Homo sapiens: one gene and its partners. The protein of the gene in region 1 purifies or fractionates together with the protein of each later gene. This does not show direct contact. Each region holds a gene or a part of one and is shown in the gene's direction. Other genes may lie near its edges. The genes, in order: OIT3, CLSTN1, COL12A1, CELSR1, NXPH4, OAF and METRNL.

Region 1 (3,500 bases):
AGAGAATCACCTTTTTCTGTACTTGCTTGCATTTTTGCTTTAATGTCTTCTACAGAACTAGGTCCTTTTGGTGTTTTAGGAGTTTTTTCCTGTTTTTTGAAGGATTCTTGTCCTTTTGATCTTGGTGTTGATGATGGTTTTGAGTCTTTTCCATTCTGATTTGACTTCTGTACATTTTTGGCTGGAGTATCTTGTATAGATTTCTTCACTGGTGCTTTTTCTTCAGCTTCCTCATTATCTTCATCATTATCATCATTATCTTCATCATCATCTTCATCTTCTTCATCGTCATCATCATCATCATCATCATCTTCCTCAGCAGCAAGTTTTACTTTTTTCTGTGGAACCTTGCTACCACCTCCAGGGGCAGACTGCTTTCCAGTTATACTTAAGAGTTTCACATCCTCCTCCTCTTCACCTTCTGACTCTGCATCTTCCTCCACAGCTACTAAGTGCTGTCCACTAATATGCACTGTCCCTAAACCACACTTCAACTGTAAGATCACTGGGGGTGTTATTTCAAAGCCCCCAAGAGAAACCGTTGGCTATACAGACATTTTCAAAGTTGCCAGTGTGACTTTAATTGGACTGCCTTCGTAATTCATTGCCTCTGCTTCAACAATGTGCAATTCGTCCTTTGCACCAGCCCTTAAACTGACTGTTTTTAAAGATAACTGGTGCTCATCTTCATCATTATCCACCTTAAAGTGATCATCTTTGTCAGCCTTAATTCACAACCAAAAAGATAGTTCTGGGGCCTCAGGAGGCTCATGTCCATGTCCATCGAATCTTCCATCGGGTGGCGGCACACACTTAGGTGGGAGAGAAGGCGGATGGAGATAAACCACCACTGCTCAAGAGAACAGCCGCACAGGACAGAATCACACCAGGGTACACTTAAGTTTTTAACCCATCTTGAGTTAATTTTCGTATATGGTGTAAGGAAGGGGTCCAGTTTCAATTTTCTGCATATGGTTAGCCAGGTATCCCAGCACCGTTTCCTCATTGCTTGTTTTTGTCAGGTTTGTTGAAGATCAGAGAGTTGTAGGTGTGCAGTCTTATTTCTGGGTTCTCTTTTCTGTTCCATTGATCTGTGTCTGTTCTTGTACCAATACCATGCTGTTTTGATTACTGTAGCCCTGTAGCATAATTTGAAGTTGGGTAGCATGATTCCTCCAGCTTTGTTCTTTTGCTTAGGATTGCCTTGGCTATTCAGGCTCTTTTTTGATTCGATATGAATTTTAAAATAGATTTTTCTGCAAAGAATATCAGTGGTAGTTTAATGGGAAAGCAGTGAGTCTATAAATTGCTTTGGGCAATATGGTCATTTTAATAATATTGATTCTTCCTATGTATTTCCATTTGTTTGTGTCATCTCTGATTTCTTTAAACAGTGGTTTATAGTTCTCCTTTTAGAGATCTTTCACTTCTCTTGTTAGCTGTTTTCCTAGTTATTTTATTCTTTTCGTGGCAATTGTGAATGGGAGTTCATTTGTGATTTGGCTCTCGGCTTGACTGTTGTTTGTATATAAGAATGCCGGCATTTTTGCACCATTGATTTTGTATTCTGAGACTGCTGAAGTTGTTTATCAGCTTAAGAAGCTTTTGGGCTGAGATGATAGGGTTTTCTAGATATGGAATCTTGTCATCTGCAGACAGGGATAGTTTGACTCCTCTCTTCCTATTTGAATGCCCTTTATTTCTTTCTCTTGCCTGATTGCTCTGGCCAGAACTTCCAACACTATATTGAATAGGAGTGGTGAGAGAGTGCATCTTTGTCTTGTGCTTGTTTTGAAGGGGAATGCTTCCAGCTTTTGCCCATTCAGTATGATGTTGGCTATGGGTTTGTCATATATGGCTCTTATTATTTTGAAGTATATTCCTTCAACACCTAGTTTATTGAGCGTTTTTAACATGAAAGGATGCCAAAATTTATTGAAATCCTTTTCTGCATCTGTTGAGATAATCATATGGTTTTTGCCTTTAGTTTTATTTATGTGATGAATCACATTTATTGATTTGCATATGTTGAACCAATCTTGCATCCTGGGGATGAAGCCTACTTGATCGTGGTGAATAAGATTTTTGATGTGCTGCTGGATTCAGTTTGCCAGTATTTTGTTGAGGATTTTTGCATCAATGTTCATCAAGGATATTGGCCTGAGGTTTCCTTTTTTTGTTGTGTCTCTGCCAGATTTTGGTTCAGGATGATGCTGGCCTCATAGAATGACTTAAGTAAGAGTCCCTCCCTTTCAATTTTTTGAAATAGTTTCAGTAGGAATGGTACCAGCTCTTCTTTGTACAGGGGGTAGAATTCAGCTGTGAATCTGTCTGGTCCTGGGCTTTTTTTTGGTTGTAGGCTATTACTGCCTCAATTTCAGAGCCTCATTGTTGGTTTGTTCAGGGATTCACAGTCTTGGGAGGGTGTATGTGTCCAGGAATTTATCCATTTCTTCTAGATTTTCTAGCTTATATGCATAGAGGTGTTTATAATATTCTCTGATGGTTGTTTGTATTTCTGTGGGGCCAGGGGTATTATCCCCCTTATCATTTCTGATTGTGTTTATTTGATTCTTCTCTCTTTTCTTCCTTATTAGTTTAGCTAGTGGCCTATCTATTTTATTAACTTTTTGGAAAAACCAGCTCCTAGATTTGTTGATCTTTTGAATGGTTTTTTGTGTCTCTGTCTCTTCCAGTTCACCTCTAATTTTGGTTATTTCTTGTCTTCTGCTAGCTTTGGGATTTGTTTGCTCTTGGTTCTCTAGTTCTTTTAGTTGTGATGTCGGGTTGTTAACTTAAAATCTTTCTAGCTTTTGATGTGGGCATTTAGTGCTATAAATTTCTCTCTTAACACTGCCTAACCTGTGCCCCTGAGATTCTGGTATGTTGTATCTTTGTTTTCATTAGTTTCAAAGAACTTCTTGTTTTCTGCTTAATTTCATTATTTACCCAAAAGTCATTCAGAAGCAGGTTATTACATTTCCATGTAATTGTATGGTTTTGAGTGAATTTCTTAGTCTTGAGTTCTAATTCGATTGTGCTGTCATCTGAGAGCCTGTTATGATTTCAGTTCTTTTGCATTTGCTGAGGAGTGTTTTACTTCCAATTATGGATCAATTTTAGAGTAAGTATCATATGGTGATGAGAAGAATGTATATTCTGTTGTTTTGGGGTGGAGACTTCTGTAGATAATTATCAAGTCCAGTTGATCCAGAGCTGAGTTCAGGTCCTAAATATCTTTGTTAATTTCTGTCTTGATGATCTAATATTGTCAGTGGGGTGTTAAAGTCTCCCACTATTATTGTGTGGGAATCTAAGTCTCTTTGAAGGCCTCTAAAAACTTGCTTTATGAATCTGGGTGCCCCTGTGTTGGGTGCATATATATTTACGATAGTTAGCTCTTCTTGTTGAATTGAACCCTTTATCATTATGTGACATTCTTCTTTGTCTTCTTTGATCTTTGCTAGTTTAAAGTCTGTTTTGTTGGAAGCTAGGATTGC
Region 2 (3,500 bases), on another chromosome or scaffold:
AAGTAGCTGGGACTACAGGCATGCACCACCATGCCCAGCTAATATTTATATTTTTAGTAGAGACGGGGTTTCGCCATGTTCGCCAGGCTGGTCTCAAACTCTGACCTCAGGTGATCCACCCGCCTCGGCCTCCTGAAGCGCTGGGATTACAGGCGTGAGCCACCATGCCTGGCAAATAGCCGTTTCTTAGAAACCTCAATTCCTAGTCATGATTTACAGTGCCTGATTTCTGTACCAGAATGAGACACATTGCTGAAAATTTGTCCCTTTTCCTTTTCAGTTTAAGAACAAGGTTTAGTGTAACCTGTTTCTGGCTCTTTGTTGTCATCTGTCAAGGGCCATTTTCTGGGTTTTGGTTTTCGTTGTAACATCTGCACTTCTCAGCAATCCTCAGGAGGAGGCAGGAAGGATGGGACTTAACACCATAGCATCCTTGAAATAGGCCGTTCCATGCAGGGAGTATTTTAAGCCTCCCTTTTATCCTCCCTGCCTCGCTTGTGTGGGTTCATTCCCCAGGGCGTGCCAGGTAGAGAAAACAGCCATGTGGAACCCAGCCAGCTGAGAAGGCAGTGGCTGGAGAGGCTGGTGGCGTAGGAAGTGTCACCATGCACCCTGGTGATGAGAACAGGGTAGGCCACCTTACCAGGTAGTGGCCAGAGGTGTGGGGACCCTCAGGGGACCTCTTGGCTTCAGGTGAGACACCCCCAACTCTCCCTTTCTCCAGGCCATGTGCATGATCATAAACGGTTTAATTTCTTCATTGCGCTTCCATGTAGATTGCAAGGCTAACAGGACTTGGTATGAACTAACCCGCATGTCCATCCACTGAGCTGCCAGCACCGGTAACACCGTGTTGAGTGAGAAGTGAGTTGGGCGATGCTGGGTTGCACGCCTGACTTCGCCTTTTCTCCCCTGACCCAAAGGTGGCGACCTGCACATGACCCAGTTTTTCCGAGGCAATCTGGCTGGCTTAACTCTCCGTTCCGGGAAACTCGCGGATAAGAAGGTGATCGACTGTCTGTATACCTGCAAGGAGGGGCTGGACCTGCAGGTCCTCGAAGACAGTGGCAGAGGCGTGCAGGTAACACCGAGCGCTCGACTGCACACCACTCATGGGCCCCTTAGACTACAGCCCCGGAGGCTGGTGGGATGAGGGAGTGAGTAATCTGTGATTGATACGTTTACTGTTGGGTAAAAGAGTTGTGTTCACTGGACTTAAACGAGCTTTTCTTTTTCAAGTCAGCAATTCAAATCGAACCCAGGCCAGTCCCCTTTGTGGAGGCATCTGTGGTTTCAGCTCCTGCGGTTACTGGCTTATTCTTCTCCTCTCTGTGGCTGGTGTGATTTCAGATCCAAGCACACCCCAGCCAGTTGGTATTGACCTTGGAGGGAGAAGACCTCGGGGAATTGGATAAGGCCATGCAGCACATCTCGTACCTGAACTCCCGGCAGTTCCCCACGCCCGGAATTCGCAGACTCAAAATCACCAGCACAATCAAGTACGTCCTGATTTTTAACAGCCGGCCTGTTTTGCCCAATGACACTTGTATATTTAGGTTTTTAAGACAGCCTAACCCCTTCTGTAAGGAAAGGTGAGCCATCGTGTGTAACCAGAAAGTGTGGGGCAGAGAGCTGAGTGATATTTACGCATCTTGTTTGCAAGTGTGTTCCTGGAGTGGCCCCGGCAGGTGTTAGTGGGGGCCTCTGTATCCCACCTCCATGTGCCTTTGCACAGGTGGGCTCCAAGATCGGCTCCCAAAGCCCTGACCCTTCCCCATTTCTTGCTGGCAGGTGTTTTAACGAGGCCACCTGCATTTCGGTCCCCCCGGTAGATGGCTACGTGATGGTTTTACAGCCCGAGGAGCCCAAGATCAGCCTGAGTGGCGTCCACCATTTTGCCCGAGCAGCTTCTGAATTTGAAAGCTCAGAAGGGGTGTTCCTTTTCCCTGAGCTTCGCATCATCAGCACCATCACGAGAGAAGTGGAGCCTGAAGGGGACGGGGCTGAGGACCCCACAGGTAATGTGCTCTGTGGGGCGCGGGCTCCCTCGCCTCGGCCGGAAACCCCATTGTCCCCATGTACTTGGCGGGGCTCTTTGTCTCTGTGGGATTTGGGGAGGTTTTAATCTTTCGTTGGTGTTCTCTCGGGTGTGCTTCTGGAATCTGACCCGTGAGCTGGAGCTCATGGTGATCTCTGGAATCCCATCTGGAGGGGTCTTACATCTTTTCCTGGTTGCTGCCAGGCTTTGAGATGTGGCTTGAGGTTGAGGGGTTGAGGGCACTTACGGGAGACACTGCTTGCACCTGCCAGGCTGGCCAGCCCATGGAGGCACAATGTCCCCACAATTCTTGCTCAGGACACATGAAACTCCCCCCCTTTTTTTTTTTTTTTGAGATGGAGTCTCACTCTGTCGCCCAGGCTGGAGTGCAATGGTGTCATCTTGGCTAACTGCAGCATCCACCTCCTGAGTTCAAGCGATTCTCCTGCCTCAGCCTCCCGAATAGCTGGGATTACAGGGACCTGCCACAACGCCCGGTTAATTTTTGTATTTTTAGTAGAGACGGGCTTTCACCCTGTTGGCCAGGCTGGTCTCAAACTCCTGACCTCAGGTGATCCACCCGTCTTGGCCTCCCAAAGTGCTGGGATTACAGGCGTGAGCCACTGCGCCCAGCCGTTTCTTGAAAGCAACTCTCGCTTGCTTCTGTCGTTGGTCCTTACGAGAGCCATGTAGGTTTGGGGTGAGCCGGCAGGGCATCCAGTGTGCCCCGCCACGCTGGGCCCCACTGCCCCTACTTAATATTTCTGGTTGGGCCTCTTTTGCAGTTCAAGAATCACTGGTGTCCGAGGAGATCGTGCACGACCTGGATACCTGTGAGGTCACGGTGGAGGGAGAGGAGCTGAACCACGAGCAGGAGAGCCTGGAGGTGGACATGGCCCGCCTGCAGCAGAAGGGCATTGAAGTGAGCAGCTCTGAACTGGGCATGACCTTCACAGGTAAGGGGAGCGCTGCAGCCACGCAGGTGGGCCAGGCTGCAAGAGGGGACTTTGAGAGCTCTTGGCTGGCTGCTGCCTGCCATCTGAGAATGTTGAGTTATCTTAGAGGGAGATGGGGAAGGAGCACGTTCGCTGGGATCATTGTTGGCTGCACGCATACTCCTGTCTCCTGGACAGGTACCGGATGTGTAGCCACTACTCTCTAAAGGGGGAGGGTTGAGGCGTGGGATGACACGTCCCCCACAGAGGGAAGAATGCCCCTGTGCACATTGCATTTATTCCCATGGCTAGAAAGCCAACTTGTGTGACCCCTTGGCCTAGCTAACCTGGGTGTCTAATTGAGCCTGCCTGTGCTGACGGCTGCAGCCCTGCCCATGCTCCTGCCCTAAGCCACCCGGCAATCTTCCCCCTTTCAACCCCTGCAGGCGTGGACACCATGGCCAGCTACGAGGAGGTTTTGCACCTGCTGCGCTATCGGAACTGGCATGCCAGGTCCTTGCTTGACC
Region 3 (3,500 bases), on another chromosome or scaffold:
ATAATGCATATTACATCAATATACCTATGTATTTTTCCCACTATGCCCAGGTATTATTTTATTTTGGGCATAGATTCCATGCAGCTTATTCATGACAGCCTTGCTTTCAAATCCCCTCTGAAAATTTCACCTAAATTAGTATCACCTTGATTAAATTATTTGTTATTTTTGTTTTAATATTTTGTCTGTATTCTTAGAGAAACTGGAAGAAAAATGCAGATTTCTTAGGGCATCTTCCATATATCCAGTAAGAGTATGAACTAGAAAAAACATGAAAGAGAGATGGCAAGATAAAGGAAGTAAAATTTGAACCTATGTAAGAAATAGAAAGAGAACTTAAAAAAGAAAGTGGGGTTGGTAACTAAGGAGTTTAGCAGCCAAAGTATGTGGAATGAGGTCCAAGATAGAAATTCTTAAATTATCTCTACAATAAATGAAAAAGTGTCAGTTGGACACCTACTATATGCAAAACACTATGTTGGCAAAATAGGGCTTGAGAAAGAAGCTTGAGAATTCATTCACTAAAGAAACATTGATTATATACCTACTATATTCCAAATACTGTGCTATGCTTTGAGAATAGGAGGGTGAAGGATTCAGTGTCTGCTTACAGTTTCATATTTGTCATATAACATAGCATGTGCCCCAGTGAGTAAGTGTATGAGGACTATGGAATTAATCGTGTTCATAATACCCTTTGACTATAAGATCTTTAATTTTAAGCAAAATTTCATGCTATTGATGGCATGTTTCTGTGTATTTTTGTGGTTGTTAATAAAGGTTCCAATGAGCCCATGGAAGCCTTTGTTGGAGAAATGACATCATATACCTTACACAATCTCAATCCCAGCACCACCTACGATGTGAATGTTTATGCTCAATATGATTCTGGACTCAGTGTCCCCTTGACAGATCAAGGCACTACATGTGAGTCATGGATATTTTCATGGTTGTGAGAAAAACTGTAGTAGAAATTACCAGGTCAGCCTGTTTTAATTTCCTGTTTCTGAACATATACATGTTTCCTCAGCATTATGTAGGCAGGCTATTTTGTGTCTGGTTAGACAAAATACCTATTCAAATACATAAATATTATAATTGAGTATATAAAAATATATATGGTGAGAAATTTGTGTATTTCACATAAAATATTATACTTTGAATTTTAAAAGATAAAAATTATAGAAATTGTCATTTTATCCATGAATGACCTGTAAAATTAGATCTGTGATGCTACTTAGTTCTTCTTGACATTTGATACCAAGATATATATTACCTAAATTCATTGATTTAATTTGACTTAATTATTGAATCATGATTAGTGTGATTCAGTCCACAGATATATTTTAAGGTCACCATTGCTTTGATAACTATTTAACGACTTAGCAGATAGCCTTTTAGAAATTGTTTTCATTATTTTCCATGAGATGTTTTTGAAATTCTTAGTTTTGAGAGGGACTATATGGAATTTCCTTTCCTTGAAAATCAGCGAAAGAAAGGGGGGTCTATTTTGGCAGTACCACATTTTTAAATATGATTCATGTATGTTTCTTATAAGGAAACATAATACAATTTTGAACTTTTTTTTAGCCACAGTGAAAGTTTGAAAATTGTGTTATGATTAAAAGTACACTTTTTGCCTCAATTTACAAAGTAAATCTCTTTCTTTCTTTATTTTGTAGTATATTTAAATGTAACAGATCTGAAAACTTACCAGATTGGGTGGGATACATTCTGTGTCAAATGGTCACCTCACCGGGCAGCCACCTCCTACAGGCTAAAACTAAGCCCTGCAGATGGTATGTGTGTAAAAAAGAAAAAAATGATCTGGAGCATGTAGTGGAAACATTTTAAATTTCAGTAAAGAAGATGCCATTTTGTTTATAACAATGCGATATAAAATTTTCTTGAAATATAATTGGTGATGACACTGGCATTTTCCTTTGTTGTCATAATCAGGAACAAGGGGACAAGAAATTACAGTGCGTGGATCAGAAACCAGTCACTGCTTCACTGGCCTTTCACCAGACACTGATTATGGTGTCACTGTTTTTGTGCAGACACCAAATCTCGAGGGACCAGGAGTCTCTGTTAAAGAACATACCAGTAAGTTTTTGAGGAATCTGGAAAGCTTTCATAAGGCTTTAGAATAGAATGCTCTAGGTAAGGAAGACTTAAGTGAATCCTGTGCAGGTACCTCTCCGTAGGGGTAGCAATAATGATGGGATGATGGCAGATTCCTGAATGTGGAGTCTAAAGCTGGTTCAGGACCTTTTTCTGTAGCAATTTGCAAGTTGTCCCTGTTATTGAGTTGGTGCTACTTTGAGGAAGGGCTAAAGGAGGGAGAGATGGCTCTCGCTGAGAAGGTGAATTCATATTAGTGACTTTTACTCATTTGACCCTATCTGAAGGCCTTACATTTTCCCTTTAGATCTTTATTTTCTGTAGCTGTAGTGGATGTTGAATGACTACCAGTGACATCAATTTGGATGGAATAAAATCCCCAGCATGTCAGTACCGATGACAATGGTGTCTCATTTTGTACGACTTGATTTGGTATCCAGGATTTAAATTGCTCTTAAAATTTACTTTCTGGGATATCAAATGTGCACATGGTGTGTTTTTATAATTATTATTTTTAAATTTTAGCTGTGAAACCAACAGAAGCCCCTACAGAGCCACCCACACCTCCTCCCCCTCCCACCATTCCACCAGCCCGGGATGGTAAGTACAGCTAAATAGGCAATACGTTCAGCTGATAGGGAGTTACAGACTTCTTATTTACGCTGCATGTGCATCATTTACAATTAATATAGAACATTTCTGATCTATTATTGCTGCTGAAGAGTTTTTAGATTGAAAGAAAAGATAACCAGTAATTTGTTTCTCTCCATCTCTGGGCACATTTTGGTGTGAATAAAATCAGTCATAAATTATTCCAGATCTTCAGCTGGAAGTCTGTTTCCTCAGTTTTACAGATTTAGGTCTTCCATGGTCCATAGTTACATGGTGGACATTTCTTTCTGCTAGCTGCTGGCATCAGTAAGCGCTGTGAACCCTTTTGGCTATATTTGCGACCGAAGCCCTGAGGCTGTTGGCTTTAAAATTCCTGGTGTCCAACCTGAGAAGTTCCCTGGATTATACAATGCTAAAAAATTTTCCATTCACCAAAATTTGAAAGATAATTGTAACTTGCAGTGAACTGGTGAAACGACATACTGATTTATTAAGGTTGATCTCTCAGCATTTGAGGGCAATTCTCTAGCACTTTGTCAAATTAAATTTAGTTAAATAACTACTGTATTATTCTTTTCTCATATGCTGTTTCCAGCATTTAATAGAAAGCATTTCAGATATTTTTATTTTATCTTAGAAGGATGTCGAACGTTACAACTTCGTTAAACCTATTATATAAGTAAAATTAAAAATTAAAAGTGTATTATTGTGGGGTAAAATAATAATGGATTCCTTTAAATTAGATACAGAAAGAAATTCAGTAA
Region 4 (4,055 bases), on another chromosome or scaffold:
GCTGCAGGATCCGACCCTCCCTTGCCAAAAAGACCCGTTCTAGGGGTGACTGCGCATTACTCCCACCCCCACCGCTCCGACCGGCCCCAGGAGAAGCCCTTCTAGGAGAGAAGAGGCGACCCCCACCTACCGTCCCCGACCACTGGGAGGCCTAAGGGCTGCACTGGACTCCGGCGCCCCGAGCGCCACCAAGGGAGTGCGCGCCCTTCCCAGCCGCTGGTGGCACAGTCCCAAAGCCCCGCCCATGCGGGGGGTCGCCAAGTCCTAAGCCTCCACCCCCTTTATCCCTGTGCCCCATCCGGAGGCAGGTGTACCCGTCACGCAAACCTAAAGCTGCCCCCGGCCCCCCGTGGTTCCCCGCAGGAGGCGGGGGTGTGTGTCACTTTTCTGAAAGCTCTAAGGTCTCTGCCCCCCGCCCCCCGCTGTCCTCCGTAGGAGGCTGGGCAGGGGCTGTGGCACAGCTCTAAATCCCTGCGGGTGCTTGCTTGCCCCAGGCAGCTTCCAGGACCCGCAGCCCCCCGCCTTCCCCGCAACCCGCTTCGGGAGGAGCCGGACGCTCGGGGATTCCGCGATGCGTCCGCGAACGCTCGGGTCGGGCCGCACGCGGGAGATGAGCGCGCCTCCGCCGTCCTCTCCAAATCCCTTATGTCAACCGGGGTTTTCTTCTTTCATTTAAAAGTTGCGCTTTAAACCAAGTGGGACGCAGATCCGGTAGCTGCCTATTGGGCTTCAAAGTCCAGGGAGTTTTAGTCGGGGTGAAGCATTTTAGCCTCCGTGCGTCTTGCTGTAAAATGGGTAACCCTCCTCGACAGCCTCCGCAGTCCTTAATGGGTGGGGGGGGGCTCCCCGGCCTCTCGGCCCCAGTCCTCCGCCCCCGGGTCCTACCCGCGCGGCACTCCTGGCGGCGGTCTCCGTGGATCTGTTCTGCCGGGGTGGGGAGCCAGGCTCTGAGCCGCGGCCCCGAGCCCGAGGTGCGGAGCCACCGCCCCACGGGTAGCGGCCACCGGGGGCCCCAGCCCCACCTTTCCCGGCCCTGTTGCCTCGGCCCCGCCCCACCGGGAGGCTGGGTGGGGAGGCCTCCGGGGAGTAGGGCCCCAGTCCCCGTCCCGGCCGCGCCCTCGCGTCTCCATAGCGATCCTCTCGGCGCGCACCTCCGAGCCGGCTCCCCCCGGGGCCGAACAATACGCCGCTGGGCCGGGGGCGGGGCGGGGCCGGGCCGGGGGCGGGGAGAGCGCGGGCGGAGTGGGCGCGGGCCAAGCGCACCGCCCAGGCAGCAGCCGGCCGCCGGGGTCTGCGCGGCGCGGAGCTGCCCAGCCCGCTCCGGGAACTCAGCCCCCGCCCCGCGCCGGGCCCGCCCCGCTTCCCACGCCCGTCCGGCCGAGCCCGCGCCGGAGCCACCTGGAGCCGCCTGGAGCCGCCGCCGCCGCCGCAGGTTGATGCGCGGCGCCCTCCCGGGACGCGCGGAGGAGCCATCTTGAAACCAACTTCGCAAACTTTCGCAAAGTGCTCTCGAAGTGGAAGCTGCGGGGGAGGCCGGGCGCGTGGTCCCCACAGTCCCCGCCAGGGCCCCCGGGGAGGCGGGACGCGGACCGCCCCGAGGGCCGGGCGCCCGGGAGCCGCTCCCCGGCCTCGCCGGGTGGATGCGGAGGCGCGCCGGGTGCATGGATTGTGTTCGGGCGCCCGGCTCGGGCTCGGGCTCCGGGCCATGGCGCCGCCGCCGCCGCCCGTGCTGCCCGTGCTGCTGCTCCTGGCCGCCGCCGCCGCCCTGCCGGCGATGGGGCTGCGAGCGGCCGCCTGGGAGCCGCGCGTACCCGGCGGGACCCGCGCCTTCGCCCTCCGGCCCGGCTGTACCTACGCGGTGGGCGCCGCTTGCACGCCCCGGGCGCCGCGGGAGCTGCTGGACGTGGGCCGCGATGGGCGGCTGGCAGGACGTCGGCGCGTCTCGGGCGCGGGGCGCCCGCTGCCGCTGCAAGTCCGCTTGGTGGCCCGCAGTGCCCCGACGGCGCTGAGCCGCCGCCTGCGGGCGCGCACGCACCTTCCCGGCTGCGGAGCCCGTGCCCGGCTCTGCGGAACCGGTGCCCGGCTCTGCGGGGCGCTCTGCTTCCCCGTCCCCGGCGGCTGCGCGGCCGCGCAGCATTCGGCGCTCGCAGCTCCGACCACCTTACCCGCCTGCCGCTGCCCGCCGCGCCCCAGGCCCCGCTGTCCCGGCCGTCCCATCTGCCTGCCGCCGGGCGGCTCGGTCCGCCTGCGTCTGCTGTGCGCCCTGCGGCGCGCGGCTGGCGCCGTCCGGGTGGGACTGGCGCTGGAGGCCGCCACCGCGGGGACGCCCTCCGCGTCGCCATCCCCATCGCCGCCCCTGCCGCCGAACTTGCCCGAAGCCCGGGCGGGGCCGGCGCGACGGGCCCGGCGGGGCACGAGCGGCAGAGGGAGCCTGAAGTTTCCGATGCCCAACTACCAGGTGGCGTTGTTTGAGAACGAACCGGCGGGCACCCTCATCCTCCAGCTGCACGCGCACTACACCATCGAGGGCGAGGAGGAGCGCGTGAGCTATTACATGGAGGGGCTGTTCGACGAGCGCTCCCGGGGCTACTTCCGAATCGACTCTGCCACGGGCGCCGTGAGCACGGACAGCGTACTGGACCGCGAGACCAAGGAGACGCACGTCCTCAGGGTGAAAGCCGTGGACTACAGTACGCCGCCGCGCTCGGCCACCACCTACATCACTGTCTTGGTCAAAGACACCAACGACCACAGCCCGGTCTTCGAGCAGTCGGAGTACCGCGAGCGCGTGCGGGAGAACCTGGAGGTGGGCTACGAGGTGCTGACCATCCGCGCCAGCGACCGCGACTCGCCCATCAACGCCAACTTGCGTTACCGCGTGTTGGGGGGCGCGTGGGACGTCTTCCAGCTCAACGAGAGCTCTGGCGTGGTGAGCACACGGGCGGTGCTGGACCGGGAGGAGGCGGCCGAGTACCAGCTCCTGGTGGAGGCCAACGACCAGGGGCGCAATCCGGGCCCGCTCAGTGCCACGGCCACCGTGTACATCGAGGTGGAGGACGAGAACGACAACTACCCCCAGTTCAGCGAGCAGAACTACGTGGTCCAGGTGCCCGAGGACGTGGGGCTCAACACGGCTGTGCTGCGAGTGCAGGCCACGGACCGGGACCAGGGCCAGAACGCGGCCATTCACTACAGCATCCTCAGCGGGAACGTGGCCGGCCAGTTCTACCTGCACTCGCTGAGCGGGATCCTGGATGTGATCAACCCCTTGGATTTCGAGGATGTCCAGAAATACTCGCTGAGCATTAAGGCCCAGGATGGGGGCCGGCCCCCGCTCATCAATTCTTCAGGGGTGGTGTCTGTGCAGGTGCTGGATGTCAACGACAACGAGCCTATCTTTGTGAGCAGCCCCTTCCAGGCCACGGTGCTGGAGAATGTGCCCCTGGGCTACCCCGTGGTGCACATTCAGGCGGTGGACGCGGACTCTGGAGAGAACGCCCGGCTGCACTATCGCCTGGTGGACACGGCCTCCACCTTTCTGGGGGGCGGCAGCGCTGGGCCTAAGAATCCTGCCCCCACCCCTGACTTCCCCTTCCAGATCCACAACAGCTCCGGTTGGATCACAGTGTGTGCCGAGCTGGACCGCGAGGAGGTGGAGCACTACAGCTTCGGGGTGGAGGCGGTGGACCACGGCTCGCCCCCCATGAGCTCCTCCACCAGCGTGTCCATCACGGTGCTGGACGTGAATGACAACGACCCGGTGTTCACGCAGCCCACCTACGAGCTTCGTCTGAATGAGGATGCGGCCGTGGGGAGCAGCGTGCTGACCCTGCAGGCCCGCGACCGTGACGCCAACAGTGTGATTACCTACCAGCTCACAGGCGGCAACACCCGGAACCGCTTTGCACTCAGCAGCCAGAGAGGGGGCGGCCTCATCACCCTGGCGCTACCTCTGGACTACAAGCAGGAGCAGCAGTACGTGCTGGCGGTGACAGCATCCGACGGCACACGGTCGCACACTGCGCATGTCCTAATCAACGTCACTGATGCCAACA
Region 5 (3,500 bases), on another chromosome or scaffold:
TATAGCCAACCCAGACACGTAACCACACCAGTCACACAGACACCACTCCACAAATTGACACACACACCCAGCCAATCCAGGCACATACACACAGTCACCGATTTACACAACAGACATGCAGCCACGACAAGCAGCCACACACACACAGGCTCCTCAGACTCATAACCATGGGCATCCAGATACACACCCACACAGCCACCACAGCCACACACACATGTACCGGCCACACACACACAACCATTTGGGGCTAACAGAGACACCAGAACCCCAGGCTGACACACATGGTACTGCCTCCCCCCATGGGACCTGTGCACAGTCAGGGCCACAGCACGCGGCGGTGGTGGCTAGCTCAGGCTGACTGACACACTCTGACATGCAGCTCCTCTCTTGCCTGCTCCCCTCGCTGGAGCGGCATCTCCATATTTCTTCCTCTTGCTTCCTGTCTCCTTCACTCCTGGCCACCCCCACTCACCCCTACCCCAGATAATTGATGGCCCGGGCCTGGCCCGGCCGCTCCTGCCTCTCGATCCATCTTGTCCTCGAGCCCATGCTGTCTCCAAGATCGGTGGCCACCTGAGACACATAGAACGGGTGGGAGCAGGAGGGGGCTCCTTAGCCCCCTTGGAGCCCAGGAAAAGAACGGCCAGGCGGCCTCCACCAGAGTGGAGCACTGGCGACTGGGAGGGATACCCAGGCTTTCCTCCTCTGCTCAACTGGTTCCCAGCACTCACTCCTTGCAGGCCAGTTGGGGCTGAGGCCCAGGTGGGGGCTCTGGTCTCTGAGGTCCTGGAGCCTCTTTCTTTTTCTTTTTCTTTTCCTTTCCTTTTTTCTTTTCTTTTCTTTTTTTTCTGAGAGGGAGTCTCGCTCTGTCGCCCAGGCTGGAGTGCAATGGTGCGATCTAGGCTTACTGCAACCTCCACCTACCAGGTTCAAGTGATTCTTCCACCTCAGCCTCCCCAATAGCTGGGACTACAGGCGCACCCCAGAACGCCCGCCTAATTTTAGTAGAGATTAGGTTTCTCCATGTTGGCCAGGCTGGTCTCGAACTGAACTCCTGACCTCAGGCAATCTGCCCACCTCAGCCCCCCAAAGTGCTGGGATTACAGGCGTGAGTCACCGCGTGTGCCGGGCGGGAGCCTCTTTCTTGATGCTGGATGTTAATGTGGTCACAGCCTCCCTGGCTCAGTTTGCTCAGAGTCCAGTCCCTCCCTGGCTCATTACTGGAACCAACCAGGTGCCGGGCCAGGAAAGATGAGCCAGGATCCAGAGCTCCACTCCCTACTCACCTTCACACTGGCTTTGGGTTTTTGGCCCTCATTGGAGCTCTGTGGGCCACATCAGGATTCTTGACGTCATTTCACAGATGTACAAACTGAGGCCCAGATCCATGAAGTGACTGGGCCAAGACTACATAGCTTGAAAGGGCTGCAGTTCTCCTCCAAGGCACGCTCCCTGCCCGCTGCGGGACTGCGTGATTCCATTTGGTCTCCTAGCGGCTGTGGAAAGGGACTGGCGTCGATAGGGCTCTGGCAGGATGGCGGGGGACAACCCCAGCGTCTCTCTCTCCTCTTTCTTCGTGCACAGGCCGTCAGTGCCCAGATACCAGAGTCCGGAAGGCCGCAGTACCTGGGGCTGCGCCCCGCCGCGGCCGGAGCGGGTGCCCCCGGCCAGCAGCTCCCAGAGCCAAGGTCTTCGGACGGCCTAGGCGTGGGCCGCGCCTGGAGCTGGGCCTGGCCGACCAACCACACGGGGGCGCTGGCCCGGGCAGGGGCAGCCGGGGCGTTGCCCGCGCAGCGCACCAAGAGGAAGCCGTCCATCAAGGCGGCGCGCGCCAAAAAGATCTTCGGCTGGGGGGACTTCTACTTTCGGGTGCATACCCTCAAGTTTTCGCTGCTGGTGACCGGCAAGATCGTGGACCATGTGAACGGTACCTTCAGTGTGTATTTCCGCCACAACTCGTCCAGCCTGGGCAACCTCAGTGTCAGCATCGTGCCGCCCTCCAAGCGTGTCGAGTTCGGAGGAGTCTGGCTGCCCGGGCCTGTCCCCCACCCTCTGCAGTCTACGCTCGCCCTGGAGGGGGTGCTTCCTGGGCTGGGGCCCCCGCTGGGGATGGCAGCAGCAGCGGCGGGGCCCGGGCTTGGGGGCTCCCTCGGGGGCGCACTGGCGGGGCCGCTTGGGGGCGCGTTGGGAGTGCCTGGGGCCAAAGAGTCACGCGCTTTCAATTGCCACGTGGAGTATGAGAAGACAAACCGCGCGCGCAAGCACCGACCGTGCCTGTACGACCCGTCGCAGGTGTGCTTCACCGAGCACACGCAGAGCCAGGCCGCCTGGCTCTGTGCCAAGCCCTTCAAAGTCATCTGTATCTTCGTCTCTTTCCTCAGCTTTGACTACAAACTGGTGCAGAAGGTGTGCCCAGACTATAACTTCCAGAGTGAGCACCCCTACTTCGGATAGCGCCCCTCCCCAGCCAGTCCTGAGCCTCCCGCCAAATCCCAGCCTCACTAGGTGGGACCCCCTTCCCAGTGTTCTGCCGCTCCTGTGGCCATGTCGCCCACTCCTTCCACTCTGGGGGCGGAGGGGAATGGCTTCTCGGGACCCTCAGCTAGCGTGGGTGCCCTTTTCCTTATGCGGAGTGCCCGCAAGGCTGGGGTAGCCCCCTCCAGTACACCCCAAAGTGAAAGGGATAAGAGTGCAGCCCCAGAATAGGCGGGGCTTGGAGGCGGTCCCAATGTCCCCTGGGTCCACAGTGGGTCCCCTTTTCACCCTTGGCGCTAGGCTGCGCACTCCCTTTCCCCGCAGCTTTAATAACTCCTGGCCTGGCACCCTCACCCCACCCTGACTTTCCCATCCCCCAGCGCTTGTCCTGCTTCACCCTACCCCGCCTAAGACTGTAAAGGCCTAAAAACCTCGGCCTGTCCTCCCACCATTCTGCCTGCCATATGCCTGTCCCCTTTTCCTCCAAACCCTATTAGGGTACCGGAAGCAGAACCCCTGGGCTGAGGCCCTGGCCCTGCCCCCGGCCCCTGCCCCTGCCCGCCCCCCTCCAGTCCAGGCAGTCGAGCTCCACCTGCCCTCTCCTGCTGCTTCCTCTCGGTGATATTTTTTCTACGCCAAAACAGACGGGAAAGGGAACAAAATAAAGTGAAATCCAATACACGCCTGTGTGAGACCTTTGTAGGGAATGGGGAGGTGGCGTGGGGCTTCTATGTGGTAGAGACCTGGCCAAGGCCTTCTCCCTCAGCGGCTCTTGGGGAAACCAAGACAAAGACTGACAGAGCTAGCACCTTGGAAGTCACCAAAGACCAGATCAAAGAGAGCTGAGGGTTACCCTCGGGGTAGGAGCCCCGCCTGAGGTTGGGATTCTCCTCCCTGAGGTGGGCGAAGGGAAGCTGCAGCAAGTGGGATGGAAATGAGACCTGAGTGGGGATCACCAGCGGACGATTTGGGGAAGGAGGTGTAAGACCTTGAATGGGATGGACAGGGACAGTGTAGGCAGAGCG
Region 6 (3,500 bases), on another chromosome or scaffold:
GACTCCAAGGGGGCCACTCAGAGCCTGTTGCTGAGACACTTCTGTTCTCGCGGGTGTACAGCAAGTACTCAGTGACTGTGTGGTGGGGGGAGCTGGGGCCCGGGCATTAATAGATGATCCACAGAGCTGTCATTCTAAGTCTCAGTGCAGAGCCATAGGGGTTCCCAGCAGAGAATGGTCACTGAGGTCAGGGTGCCTCCACCACAGGAGGGGCCTTGACAGATGTAGACCACTTCTGACTGGGACCCACTAACTTCTCACTGGGAGCAGAGTTAATCAAGTCACAGAGATGGGTAAGAAGGCAAGGGGCCACTTCTCATGTGGTGAGCGGTACAGGTGAGCAGAGCACAGGGCTCCAGCAGCCGGATAGGGAAGGGGGCCCCAGCCCACCCTACAGCTCTACTCCCTCCATCCTGCTGCAGACCCCCCATTCACACAGTGAGTCAGTAACAGGAAGGAGCCCTTGGACTGCGGCAATGCCATTAGCGACCCCATGGGGGAAAGGGGAAGTGGGGAGGGAAAGGAAGAGGCGAGGCATCCTAGCTCCCTCAGGCCGGAAGGCTGCAACAGCTGCAGCCAGCCTCCCACTCTGCCCTCACCCCGTCCCGGCCCCACCACTCCACTCACTCAGTGGTCGGTGGCCAGGAGCCTGGCCAATCAGAAGCACCAAGGGCATCTTGAGACCTCTCCCCAGATCTACTGAATAAGAATGTCTAAGATTTCTAGCCATTACAACTACAAAGAAAAAAAAAAAAGAGGAACTCTGGAATCGGTACTGGAAAAGTCCAGCCCTCCTCCATGATGCCCTGATCAGGTGCCTGTAGAGGCCCTGACCCACCCTGATCAGGGTGACGTTAAGGGGTTCTGCCGAGAGGAATCATCAGCTGGGAAAAACTCTAGTGGTTCACTTTGTCAGTTTTCCAGGATCTTTGGAACATCTGGGGTGTGTTCTTTCTTTCAAGTCACGGGTTTAAACGGAAAAGATAAAAATTCCTAGACCAGCAGGAGGGAGGTGTCTGTTGCCCGGCAGTGTCCAGGCATCCTGTTCAGGGGCCAAGCTGAGCACCCGGTGGGCCAGTGGGAAGGTCCCACACCCTCCAGCCGTTCCCATCCTCCTGCCCTTCTTCAGGATGTGAAGGTCTTCCGGGCCCTGATCCTGGGGGAGCTGGAGAAGGGGCAGAGTCAGTTCCAGGCCCTCTGCTTTGTCACCCAGCTGCAGCACAATGAGATCATCCCCAGTGAGGCCATGGCCAAGCTCCGGCAGGTAAGTGCCCCACCAGGCCTGCCTGGCCCAGGTCCTGACCCGCAGCAGACCCGGCCCAGATCCCATCCCGCAGACCCGGCCCAGATCCTGACCTGCAGACCCGACCCCTGCAGCCAGCCTAGCTCTAAGCTCTGATTCCCCAACCTTAGCCTCCCACCCAGCTCCTCATCTTCACGCTGTTCCTGGACCCACTGCCCTTGACCTGCCCTCATCCCTGGTACCCCATTCACCCTAGAGTCCTGAGCCCCTGATTTTGCCCCAGGCCAAACCTGACCCTAGAGCTGCAGATCACTAACTGAACCCCAACTCTCAGATTTCTCCCATCTGGTTCCAGCACCTCCCCGTGTGTGACAGGCTAGGGGCTTGGGCTCTGAGGTCAGATCAGACATCACATCTCCTCCGTCACTCATTAGTTGGGTGACATTGGACAAGTTACCTTCAAAGCCACAATTTTCTCACTGAAACTGGGTTATGGGGGAATTCAGTGAGCAAACATATGTGAAGTGTTCAAGACCCTCAAAGCTGCCGGCCTGCTCCTGCTGTCTTCTTAGACCCAGGGCCTTGCCCCAGCCTCATCTGAGTTCCCTGGCCTGCCCAGCAGAGCCTGCCCTGGGGGCCTCCTCGCCCCTGCGCTTTGCCTGCTTTCCCAAAGGGACTTGGTTCCCTGGATGTTGGAAAGTACGTGATTCCAGAGGTCATATGCCCTGGCACAGCTTGCCTGGCCCACCCACCTCCACCTCCCATCCACACCTCAGCATTCTCCATCAAGCCCCAGAGGTCAGCCCAGTGGCCAGCACATAGTTTGGGAAGCATCCATTCTGGATAGAGGCTGAAAAGGCTCGACTGTACTCTAGGCATCAGCTTCACTGCCAGTTGGAGAGGGGTGGGGCTGCCACCCTGCAGATGGCCCCAGCGTTCTAAAGGCAGTCAGCTTGGGCTCGCCTGACTCTGGAGGGTCAGGGGAAGATGGACAGGGAGCATTCTGAAGCCAGGTAGGAGTGACTTCTCTCCCACACACAGAAAAATCCCCGGGCAGTGCGGCAGGCGGAGGAGGTTCGGGGTCTGGAGCATCTGCACATGGATGTCGCTGTCAACTTCAGCCAGGGGGCCCTGCTGAGCCCCCATCTCCACAACGTGTGTGCCGAGGCCGTGGATGCCATCTACACCCGCCAGGAGGATGTCCGGTTCTGGCTGGAGCAAGGTCAGCTGGGAGCTGGGCACTGCCCGCTGCTGGGCGGAGGGAAGGGGACAGGGAGACAGCACAGAGCAGTGGAGGAGGGCAGGGGCATCATTAGTTGAGTCTCATCATTAGCCAAGTCTCATCATTAGCCTTTCCTTTGTTCAGGAGACATTTACTGAACACCTACAGAGATGTACTGGCGCAGGAATCAGAGATGTAGACACTCAGTTCCTGTCCCCCAGCAGGGTAGATCTGCACAGAGTTAAGTGTGATAGAATACCATGATAGCTACAGGCGTTCAGGGAGGGACCCCCAAACCAGGCTACAGTTGGTCTGGGAAGGCTTCCTGGAGGAAATGGAGCCTGTGTGATTATTCAGCGAGAAGATTCAGCCAGAGGAAAGGGCCCTGCTCCAGGCAGGGCACACAGACTCTGCTAGGCCCTGTGGAGGGAGATTCCCAGGTACTTCCCCTTGTCCCTGCCCTTAGTGAGGACACAGAGATGGGGCCTTCTGTCATGGGTGTGGGGCACAAGGACACCCTGCCCCCCTCCACTGACACCTCTCAGATATCAGCTTCAGGCCCTCCCTGGTGCCAGCATCTCTGCCCCAAGATCCTTGGAAGCTCCTCTCCATACTGCATGGTCCCTGCCTTCCTGACCTCTGTGACTTCAGCGCTGACCCCTCTCTGGGTACCTTTTCCAGGACCGCCCTCAGGTCCCCTGTGTGGAGGGGAGAGGGAAATGGCGCCATTCCAACTCTGAGCCCCTGTGCCTTCTGCCAGCCAACTGAGCACTGGTGAAATGCCTGCTCCTCCCAGGGCAGGCCCAGATTTAGAAATACCCAACCAAGCTGTGGTCTTGCCCCCCACACACATACACCCTCCCCCATGGCCTGCACCCCAGACTATGCCGCAAGCTTGACATAAGTGTCCTCCAGAAGCTGGCCCCTCCCATACAGCCCCTGAGCCTAATCAGGCCGGTACCTTCCGTCTCCTCCAGCGCCCCAATATGCACACTTTCCCATTTGATCCAAGCCCTGGCCACCCTGACCTGACCT
Region 7 (3,500 bases), on another chromosome or scaffold:
ATCACAAAATGCCCTCATCCATGACCATTAAAGATAGGTCACATTTTTGCAATGCCAGCAATTTTGCATAAACAGACTCTGTTTTCAGGTTTGCTGAGGTGCTGGATATTTGGAGGTGAGAGATTTGAGGCACTCGATTTTCTGGTAGGAACCAGCACAGACCATGAGTCTCGGACTTCGTGCCGAGGTCTGCTGGGTCCCAGGCTGAAGGATGCATCGTTTAACTTTTTTTGTCTACACGGGTCTTGCGCATCATGTGCTACTGATTTTAATGTGAAAATCCCTACGTCAGCGGGTCTGGTTGGAGTCCCGTTGGTCTGGATGTTTCGGGAGAATGTGAGAGGAGAGGGGAGCAGGCCCTGTGCTGGGTGCAGACCCGTCTGAGTGCGCTGAGAAGACGTCAGGTGAAGGCCGGGGTAGCCGGGTGTCTTCTTTCTTCTGTGTCCACCTTCATTTTGTCCTCTTCCTCTTTTTGCCCAGTGTCTTCTGAGTGGGTGGAGCCAGGCGTGCCCACCAGATGCGGGTAGCATGTGCTAGGCCAGGACGGCCCCCAGGCTCAAGTCGGCCTCCTCCTGGGCAGAGGTGGGTTGGCCGCCTGTCCCCAGCTGAGTTGTGGCTGTTCCCCTCGCCTGCTCAGATGAAGGCAGTGCTGTCAGAGGTGACCAGAGCCCGCTCCCTCGACCTTCAGGACTCCCCGAGAGGGAGGCAACGTGTCAGGACGGTGTATGTGGAGAGAGGGTCGAGGCTCGGTGCCTGAGCACGGGCAGGAGGACAGTGGCCTCGATGCCAGAGACGGGAGGGAGAGACGTGACGATGAGGCTGCATAAGAAGAGAGCTGACTGTAGCTGAGTGTATCAGCCACTCACCGAGTCCAGTTTCCACACAGCACGATCATCGTGCCCTTGCCCACACACGTGTTAGATGAGCTTGTGTGAGCTTTATGGGCTGTAATTTGTGAGTCTGTTCTGGGTGTGTGATCCTGGCAGCCGGCTAGGCCTGGCCACTCGTGACCTGGGGCCTTGTCGGGGTGGGGAGAGGGTGAGGAGGGGTGCACCCTCGACACCACCCTCTGATGTGGCCTGCAGCCTATGAAGAGTGAGGTTTGGGGGCCCAGAGTGTGAGTCACCAGCGGTAAATGCAAACCATATGTGATGCATTTTCTCTGCTGCAGAAAGGGTTTCTGGTGACTCGCTCAGGCCAGGGCTCTGGAAACAGCATTGCTTATTTCACATAAAAATCCTAAGAATGTGGGTGAACCTGTCTGAGATCTGCGTAATAAAACACTTAGTTGAAGTCACCGGGTTAGTTCCAGGCCCACTTGGTTATGACGTGGCTGTTAGCCACGAGCTGGCATTTACGTTAAAGTGTTGAGAAGCGTGAGGGTTTTGATGTTTCAGTTTCTTGAAAATATAACTGTTTCTACTCAGGACCTGCCTCTCCAAGAGTGTAGCACACTTCATTTTTTTCTGTTTAGCATGTATGAGGGTGAACTTAGCTTGCTACTCACACACTACTCACCCTGTGGAGGAAGTTCGCCTCGCTTTTGTGGTGAGTCTTGCTGTAATGATAGCTTATATTTACAAATACCGTCGGCAGTGCAGGGTCTTCAGGCTTGCAGAAAACGGTCAAGTCATTACTTTGAGAAATGTACAAACATCTATGCTTAATGAGGTGCTAAAAGACAAAACTCATCTACAACCTCCTTCCCCCCAAACTGCCAACACTCTGGATTAACTTAAAAGCTGCTCTCTGGGCAGGTTGCATCCCAGGGCTCCTCCTTCACACGTGGTGGGGCCCCACCTTCGCTTTACCTCTAGCGTCCCAGCCCTCGTGGTCATCTGGAACCAGGGTTGGTACACAGGGCCTGCTGGCATTCCTGTGATACTCCGTGATATTCTGGAGGAATCCATCCCTTCCCTGGGGCTCCATCCCACTGCCCCAGCACCTCCAGCCACCCTGATTCAGGGACATCGCAGAGATTGGTGTTTGACGCTACGGCAGCAGAGGCGCAGACTCTTGAGTGTTGGAGGGTGTCTGGAGGGCCTGGGGACAAGCACCGCCTGCACTCCCGGGAGCTCGGCCCCGCCCCACCATGGCTCTTGGTGCAGGTGCACTGGAAGGAACTGGGTGGGGCCCTTGTGCCGAAGGGCGGAGATGGCGCCGGCCTGCCTCACGGGCAGGGGTCCGTGTGGCACCTGTGGCCGGCAGCGGGTGGGTCCAGGAGCCGCCATCATTTGGAGCGGGTATCGTCCTCACTGACTCTCTGTGGGTGCGGGTGGGGTGTGTGACGGGAGCTCCGGGCCTGGCTGACAGTGTCTCTCCTCTGCAGCGGGCTGACGCACGAGGCACACAGGAAGGAGGTGGAGCAGGTGTATCTGCGCTGTGCGGCGGGTGCCGTGGAGTGGATGTACCCAACAGGTGCTCTCATCGTTAACCTGCGGCCCAACACCTTCTCGCCTGCCCGGCACCTGACCGTGTGCATCAGGTCCTTCACGGACTCCTCGGGGGCCAATATTTATTTGGAAAAAACTGGAGAACTGAGACTGCTGGTACCAGACGGGGACGGCAGGCCCGGCCGGGTGCAGTGTTTTGGCCTGGAGCAGGGCGGCCTGTTCGTGGAGGCCACGCCGCAGCAGGATATCGGCCGGAGGACCACAGGCTTCCAGTACGAGCTGGTTAGGAGGCACAGGGCGTCGGACCTGCACGAGCTGTCTGGTGAGTGTCCTGCCTGGGGCGGGGGCGGCGGGCCTCGTCATCACGGGGCTGGTGATGTGGCAGGTGTCTCTGATTTCTTCCTGTCCCCTCGTCTGCTCAGCCTTGGTGAAAACCCTTCTGTGTCTGTGCTTCGGACATGACTGTTTTGCCTGAAGAGCCCCCCAGGTGGCTGGGGTTGGGGGACACTGGCGCCCGCAGAGGGGCCCTCCTAGGGGGTGTGACATGGTGTAGGGGGGTGTGGGATGTCTAAACTAAACCATCTTGGAAATGCAGCCTTTCCAACTAAAACCACCTTTGAAAAGACTGGCCCATCTGGGTTAGTGTTTCGGGCGGCATGGCCTTGGCCGAGCGGGGCCTCTCTCCCTGGAGGTGTGTCTGGGGAGCATGGTGAGCATCCCCCTGTGGCGGCCGGGCCAGTGCTGGGTCGGACGCGCCCCCATGCTTGTGGATCGTGTAGCACCTTTGAAACGGGTGCTTTTGCCATTCAAACTGCCCTGGGAATTGGCTGGGTGTCTGTGGTGTCGGCTAAAGACCCTGAAACGTCCATTTTTGGGTGGGAGCTGAGGCTGGCTCAGCCCTGAGCGGTGCTGAGCTGTGACGCCCAGAACATGGGGCCACCCCCGTCCCAGAGGGGTCTTGTGGGTACGATAAACAGACAGCTTCCCTGTGTGGCCGGCAGGGAGTGGAGGTGTCACGTGGCGTCTCTGGACGCCTGTGCTTGGGGGAGAGGTCCTTCGTGGAGGGCTGTGTTGGTCTCTAGAAAATTCTGTGGGTAGACACCAGGA

Evidence for each region.
Region 2: the proteins of OIT3 (region 1) and CLSTN1 purify together in Homo sapiens (affinity purification with mass spectrometry; one large-scale study listed by BioGRID and IntAct). This does not show direct contact.
Region 3: the proteins of OIT3 (region 1) and COL12A1 purify together in Homo sapiens (affinity purification with mass spectrometry; one large-scale study listed by BioGRID and IntAct). This does not show direct contact.
Region 4: the proteins of OIT3 (region 1) and CELSR1 purify together in Homo sapiens (affinity purification with mass spectrometry; one large-scale study listed by BioGRID and IntAct). This does not show direct contact.
Region 5: the proteins of OIT3 (region 1) and NXPH4 purify together in Homo sapiens (affinity purification with mass spectrometry; one large-scale study listed by BioGRID and IntAct). This does not show direct contact.
Region 6: the proteins of OIT3 (region 1) and OAF purify together in Homo sapiens (affinity purification with mass spectrometry; one large-scale study listed by BioGRID and IntAct). This does not show direct contact.
Region 7: the proteins of OIT3 (region 1) and METRNL purify together in Homo sapiens (affinity purification with mass spectrometry; one large-scale study listed by BioGRID and IntAct). This does not show direct contact.

What each region holds. Positions count from the first base shown.
Region 1 is NC_000010.11:72,917,739-72,921,238, forward strand, and holds part of OIT3 (oncoprotein-induced transcript 3 protein precursor), read left to right. Parts: intron 1-3,500.
Region 2 is NC_000001.11:9,733,466-9,736,965, reverse strand, and holds part of CLSTN1 (calsyntenin-1 isoform 1 precursor), read left to right. Parts: intron 1-923; coding exon 924-1,081; intron 1,082-1,350; coding exon 1,351-1,499; intron 1,500-1,791; coding exon 1,792-2,018; intron 2,019-2,823; coding exon 2,824-2,994; intron 2,995-3,419; coding exon 3,420-3,500. UniProt on the Homo sapiens protein: Postsynaptic adhesion molecule that binds to presynaptic neurexins to mediate both excitatory and inhibitory synapse formation.
Region 3 is NC_000006.12:75,122,554-75,126,053, reverse strand, and holds part of COL12A1 (collagen alpha-1(XII) chain long), read left to right. Parts: intron 1-780; coding exon 781-927; intron 928-1,682; coding exon 1,683-1,799; intron 1,800-1,959; coding exon 1,960-2,106; intron 2,107-2,649; coding exon 2,650-2,724; intron 2,725-3,500. UniProt on the Homo sapiens protein: Type XII collagen interacts with type I collagen-containing fibrils, the COL1 domain could be associated with the surface of the fibrils, and the COL2 and NC3 domains may be localized in the perifibrillar matrix.
Region 4 is NC_000022.11:46,534,821-46,538,875, reverse strand, and holds the start of CELSR1 (cadherin EGF LAG seven-pass G-type receptor 1 isoform 1 precursor), read left to right. Parts: upstream 1-1,255; 5' UTR 1,256-1,705; coding exon 1,706-4,055. UniProt on the Homo sapiens protein: Receptor that may have an important role in cell/cell signaling during nervous system formation.
Region 5 is NC_000012.12:57,223,294-57,226,793, forward strand, and holds the end of NXPH4 (neurexophilin-4 precursor), read left to right. Parts: intron 1-1,584; coding exon 1,585-2,454; coding exon of another isoform or gene 2,455-2,653; 3' UTR 2,654-3,156; downstream 3,157-3,500. UniProt on the Homo sapiens protein: May be signaling molecules that resemble neuropeptides and that act by binding to alpha-neurexins and possibly other receptors.
Region 6 is NC_000011.10:120,224,532-120,228,031, forward strand, and holds part of OAF (out at first protein homolog precursor), read left to right. Parts: intron 1-1,129; coding exon 1,130-1,264; intron 1,265-2,284; coding exon 2,285-2,465; intron 2,466-3,500.
Region 7 is NC_000017.11:83,082,609-83,086,108, forward strand, and holds part of METRNL (meteorin-like protein isoform 1 precursor), read left to right. Parts: intron 1-2,329; coding exon 2,330-2,715; intron 2,716-3,500. UniProt on the Homo sapiens protein: Hormone induced following exercise or cold exposure that promotes energy expenditure. Induced either in the skeletal muscle after exercise or in adipose tissue following cold exposure and is present in the circulation.